2 separate regions of the Homo sapiens genome follow, and region 2 is linked to region 1. Evidence: fine-mapped QTL for protein levels in blood plasma. A gene starts in region 1. The other region holds a variant in brackets. All regions are shown on one strand. Distances are from middle to middle. Region 1 holds the start of ACAN (aggrecan). Region 2 overlaps ACAN (aggrecan).

Evidence for each region. PIP is the chance, under the fine-mapping model, that this variant and not a neighbour inherited with it causes the effect. The UK Biobank Pharma Proteomics Project read protein levels with antibody pairs (Olink). The fine-mapping took linkage between variants from a reference panel, not from the people measured, so its PIPs are less certain.
Region 2: its variant is fine-mapped to the plasma level of the ACAN protein (UK Biobank, PIP above 0.99). The variant lies in the coding sequence of ACAN. If it changes the protein, the assay may bind it differently, which can mimic a change of level.

The regions. Positions count from the first base shown.
Region 1 is chr15:88,802,129-88,805,034 of GRCh38, reverse strand. It overlaps ACAN (aggrecan), which reads right to left and starts at 1,599. Exons shown (of 19, transcript NM_001369268.1): 1 at 1,226-1,599. LOC105370960 (a long non-coding RNA gene) reads left to right here and starts at 1,517. Exons shown (of 3, transcript XR_001751648.1): 1 at 1,517-1,585.
Region 2 is chr15:88,844,074-88,846,979 of GRCh38, reverse strand. ACAN (aggrecan) reads right to left here. Exons shown (of 19, transcript NM_001369268.1): 7 at 1,098-1,475. Among named protein-coding and RNA genes, the nearest start is that of ACAN, 42 kb to the right of the region's middle. RefSeq lists an enhancer at 1-65. The variant A/G (reference allele first, on the strand shown) is at 1,161.

The sequences.
Region 1 (2,906 bases):
ACCTTCAGAAATTCATTGCACCTTTCTGGGTCCACTTGCCCTCCTCTTCAGACGAGGTGGGTGAATTTTCAAGGTCCAGAGTCCCCTCTAAACTGTCAGACACCCACCCACTGCAGCACCCAGGACCCCAAAACACCGTGCTAACCCAATTCAGCTTTGTATTTTCCTCCTGGCAGCCAGCCCCACAGAACCAGAATTTACACATCAGTCAACATGCTGGAACTCCAGCTTCTTCATGGTGAAACCCTAGTAGGATCCTGTCAGAACCCAGCTCATGACTGAAAGGAGGATAATGATGGAAAAGTTTGGGTTGGATCCTGTCTCACAACCAGAGACAAGCCCCCACCCCCGCAGCTTGCTCTGCCCAGAGTGTGGTTCAGTTGACATACTGACAGCCTCCAACCCAGCCCCAGGGTTGGAAAGGGCTCCTGCTCCACCAGCATTGGCTTCGTTTGAAGAGGAACCCACAGACGGAAAAACCGCTCGTGGTCGTGTGTCCTCAACTCCCCTCCCCTTTCTTCCTTGAGAAATGCCCCTTCTTGGTTGGACACCCGTGTGTTCAGGGCACTGCTCTCCTCTCCCCTGCTGGCAGTTCAGTAGCTCTGTCCCAGGTTCTGCCACTCTCCCCTGGGCAGACTCTTCAGGCACTCTGGTCCCTGGAGTAAGCCAAGTGGCCAAGGATGGACTATCTAGCCTCGGCTTAGGACCCGCTGTGTCCCTGACATAGTGTCCATATGATTTCATTTATTCTTCCAGACCCCGCGAAGGCCTTTTCCCTCTCAGCTGACAGACGGCAGGCCAAGGCTCAGGAAGGTGAAGCACACCTTCCAGCTCAAAAGTAGCACCTCGGGGATTTGAACCCACATTCCCTTGACTCTGAAGCTGCTACTCTGTCAACCATGGGTCTTTCCAGACCCTAGGATTTAAAATCACCTAGGTGTTTGGAGAAAAGGCTCCCTTGTTCCTTCATCCTGGCGGACTAGGAGACAAGTGCCCCTCCTCACGTGTTCCTTTGCCCCATTCACTGAGTCTGCAACAGCCAAAAAGTTTGCTCAACTCCACCGCGGACGCAGCCGGTGGATGTGCTGCGCCCCCGGCACACATAGCTCTAGGGCGGAGACCAAGGCAGTGCAGCCCCCAGCCCCGGGGCGTGCAGTCTCAGTCCCGTTCCTGGCTCGCCGGGCGCCCTGGGAGAGCCTCGCTCTGGAGGGAAGGAGACAGTTACCTTGAAGAGTTGGACTCCCTTCTCCAAGAACTTCAGTCCCACACACCTGGCGAGGCAGCTGGGGGCTCCTGGGGCCGGGAGGCCCGGGTCTCGCTGCGTAGCGAGGGAGACGCTCTGCGCGGGCGCTGCGCACCCCTCCTCCTGCCGGCGTCCTGTCCGCAGGTCCCCTCGGGCTGTGGCCGCAGCGGCAACTGCTGGGTTGCGGAGTCCTGGCTGGCTGAGGGAATGGACACTGAAAGGTGCCCGGAGACCCTGGCACCCGCGTCAGACGCCGGCCGGCGAGGGTGCTGAGAGAGAGAGACCTTGAGCAGCGCTGCGCGCGTCCTCAGCTCTGCGAGCCCCCTCTGGAGCGGCGGGGAGGTAGGTGGGCGGGCGGGCGGGCATGGCGCGCTGTGACACATACATAGGGACGGGCGGGGGAGGGGAGGGCCCGTGAGGGGTGGGGGCGGGAGGGGGCGAGCGCAAAGGGAAACCCCACCCCCAGGGACCGAGGGGCGGCCGACAGGGGGAGGGGAAGGCAGAGGCGTCTGGAGCGCGCTGGACCCTGGCTCCGGACCGGCGCGCCGATGGGGAAGCCGGCCTGCGCTCAGGGCGGGAGAGGAGCGCTCCCCGGGGCGGCGCGGACCCGGCAGCTCCGGGGCTGGCGGGAGGAAGGCGGCGCGAGAAGGGCTGGAGGGCCCGCATCTGCATTGCGGTCGGCAGCTCCGCAGTCGGAGGGGCCCAGGAGGGCTGCACCCTCAGAGAATCCCCAAGTGCCCGGACTCTGAGGCCGCCGCGGCGGGACAGGGCTCCCGGGCGCCCGGCGGGGTTCTGCAGCTGAGGCTGGCCACGACGCGATCTAAGGAGGGTGCAGCCCGCTACTGTCGGCCACGATTTGGAACGACCCTCACCGAGGAGCTGGCTGAAAGTTTTTTTGGGGGTGGCGTACACCGGGATGGCAGGGGATGGTGGAGAGGGGGAGGTAAGGCGTCAGCGGGGAGGCTCACGGGGAGCTGCGAGTCTCTGGGTCTTCAAATTCCCCGGGAGAGACCAAGGACATCTCATATGAAGCAGGAATTCTCCAGTGTCTCTACAGTACTCTTTAATACCGTTTTCAGGAAAAGGAGAAAAAGAACTAGCAGCTTTTGAATCCCTCCTATGAGCCCGTTGTGTAACATACATTAACATTTCATTTAATTTTTCCAAAGAGCCCAACAAGGTAAATATGGCAACTTCCCACCTGCCCCTAACCAAAGATGTGAAAACTGAGGCTCAGAAAGTGGTGGAGATCCCTCTTGAAGGTGGGACTGAGTTCGAGTCCCAGGTCTTGTGCTCTCTGCTACACAGGCTGCTGGTTGAGCCACAGCACCTTCGGAGGACTCAAGCTGGCTGGTGACCTTCAGAGTTCTTGTGGAGGAAGCTGGTGGTGCTTCACACCAGGATGTGGTGGCCACAGTCAGGATGGTGGTGGAAGCTTCCTGACCCTCTCATTGGGCAAGAAGAGGAAGAAGTGGAATCTTTCGGGACTCCCCACTACAGAGATAATAGACCACACTTTAATCAGTTCCTTGATGAAAAGGAACTGAAGTGCCTCGGTTTCCCCAGGGCGACTCCACTGGAATTATGTGGTTATTTTACTGGCCATCTCTGCCTGGGGGCGGGACTGGCCCTGGCCCAGCACATGCTCTGTGAGCCGCCTGTC
Region 2 (2,906 bases), 42 kb before region 1:
GGGAAGCACTGGGCTCTATGCTACCTGACATCCCATTTTCACACATGTATTAAGCACCTAGAACACTGTCATCTTAGAACAGGAGTTGGAAGCGTTTTCTGGAAAGAGCCGAATGGTAAATATTTTAGGCTTTGTGGGCTATGTGGCTTCTGTTACAACTACAGTTATCCTTCGGGATCCAGGATCTCCTCAGATACCAAAATCTGCAGAGTCTCAAGTCCCTGATATACAAGTGTAGTATTTGTATAAAAGCATCTCTAGATTACCTATAAAACCTGATACAACGTCAATGCTATGTAAGTAGTGGTTATATTGTATTGTTTTAAATCTGTATTACTTTTATTGTTGTATTGTTGTTATTGTTTCTTTTCTTTTGGAATATTTTCCATCTACGGTTGGTTGAATCCAGACATGAAAGACTGACTGTATTCAACCTCGCTGTGATTGTCCTCAGTTAGTCATAGACAACTTGTCCACAGATGGCTATGGCTTTGTTCCAATCAAACTTTATTTGTGGACATTGAAATTTGAATTTTATATAATTTTCATGTGTCACAAAATATTATTTTTCTTTTGACTTTTTGCCCCTAACTATTTAAGAATGTAAAAATCATTCTTAAGTCATGGGCCATATGAGAACAGCTAAACCCAGCCCACTGGCCACAGTTTGCTGGCCTTTGTCCTGGGAGGTCAGAGCAGTGAGAGGCCTCAGGGGTCATCCAAGGCAGTGGTTTTCTAGTGGCTCTGTTTTGTTGGGGTGTCTGATGGGGCAAGGAGGGGCCCTGGACAGAAGGAGCCCAGTTGTTCTCCACGCTACTTCCCTTAGAACTATGTGGCACATGTGCCTGCTTGATACAGAGACTGGATTCCACATATGACCTCATTTGAAATAAATCCCTGGTGGCAAGAGTGTGGACCTGACTAGTCTGGCCTATTGTTTTTGTTCCACAGATGAGGAGAATAAGGTCTGAGAGGAGAGAACATTGTCCCACGTGCCAGGTTAAGTAGAAGGTACAGCCTTCAACTGCGGGAATCCCTTCCCTGCAGGCCAAGTTCTCTCCACCTGCCCCTGGATGCACCCACGGGCAGCTACTTACCCCCTGGCAAATGCGGCTGCCCAGGGACAGCGGTCACCTGCACGACGAGGTCCTCACTGGTGA[A/G]TGCCGTGGCAGGGCCCAGGCCAGGTGTGGGAAAGCCCCAGGGCCTGGTGGCCTCTCCAGTCTCATTCTCAACCTCAGCGAAGGCAGTGGCCCCTATTTCAGGGGCAAACGTGAAGGGCTCCTCGGGTTCCAGGGGACTGGGGGAGACCTCGAAGATGGGCTTTACGGTAAGGATCACGCTGCCTCGGGCTTCACCCTCAGTGATGTTTCGAGGCAGTGGCAGCTCCATGTCAGGCCAGGTCACTGTCTGGACGGTGATGTCCTCCTCACCCCCCACTCCAAAGAAGTTTTCTGGGATGTCCACAAAGTCTTCACCTAGGGGAGGGGCAAAGACAAGCTTTAGCCTCTCAGCCTGGGACCGGCTTGAGGGGGATGAGGAGTGGGCTGGAGATGAGCATGGCTCCCCCTCCTTCCCTGCTGGGGCAGGAGGGCACCACTGTGTGCCAGGCACCTTGCCAAGCCCATTTCAGGGGTACTCAGCTATCGGCATTCATTGTAGGAGTCCCCACAGTTTCAAGATTGCAAGAGTGCAAGAGCTATCAGAGGGCAAGATATTGACCAATGAGCTGACGGCTCATAAAGATCAGTTCCCACCCCAACAGCCCTTCCTGCTCAACACAGCTGCTGCTTCACTCGTCTCATGAGCACCTTACCAACCATCTGATGCTGTAACTATCCAACAGGACCAGGTAAGTCAGTTATAAGGAGAAATCAGAAAATCTTGCAGAAAGTGCAGTTTGTGAAGTTGATGAAGGTGGCTTTGGAGAACTGCCTGTCTCATAGTCATGGAAAAATGAGGGTACCATGAGAGTGATACTACTTCCAAAAGAGTGGTTAGAATACCAAAAGGTTAAGAGAGGCTTCGAGGGGGAAATCCCAGCTATTAACCCTCTTCCTGTAAGATCAGGTTGTGGAAATGAAACGTGTAATGAGTTGTCATTGTGTTATCACCACTTAGTACATAAAAGTTTTGCAACTCCTCATTCATGTGAGGCATTGTTTTTTCCTCCAAGAATTAGCATGTAATTATAATTATAACCCAAAATGTGTTAAATGTAAGATAAAAACTTATTTGAACATTTTGGTCTAATTTTTCAAAATAAAGTCCCCATCAAACTTTCCCCTACTCTTTTCAATAACATTTTGTGGCCGGGCGTGGTGGCTCACGCATGCAAGCCCAGCACTTTGGGAGGCTGAGGTGGGTGGATCACCTGAGGTCAGGAGTTCAAGACCAGCCTGGTCAACATGGTGAAACCCATCTCTACTAAAAATACAAAATTAGCTGGGCATGATGGTGCACACCTGTAATCCCAATCTACCTGGGAGGCTGAGGCAGAAGAATCGTTTGAACCTGGGAGATGGAGGTTGCAATGAGCTGAAATAGCACCACTGCACTCCAGCCTGGGTGACAGAGTGAGATTCTGTCTCAACAATAATAATAATAATAATAAAGTAAAATGACATTTTGCCCAGCCTGGGCAACATGACAAGACCCCATCTCTACCAAAAAAAAAAAAAAAAAAAAGCAAAGCATGGTGGTGCCTGTATTCCCAGTTGCATGGGAGGCTGAGGCAGGAGGATTGCTTGAGCCCAGGAGGCTAAGGCTGCAGTAAGCTATGATTACACCACTGAACTCTTGCCTTGATGACAGAGTGAGACCCTGTCTCAAAGAAAAACAAAAAAACAAAACACAACAAAACCCATTTTGACCCTCCTTTTAGACATATTCAATTTAAAAAGGCAGAT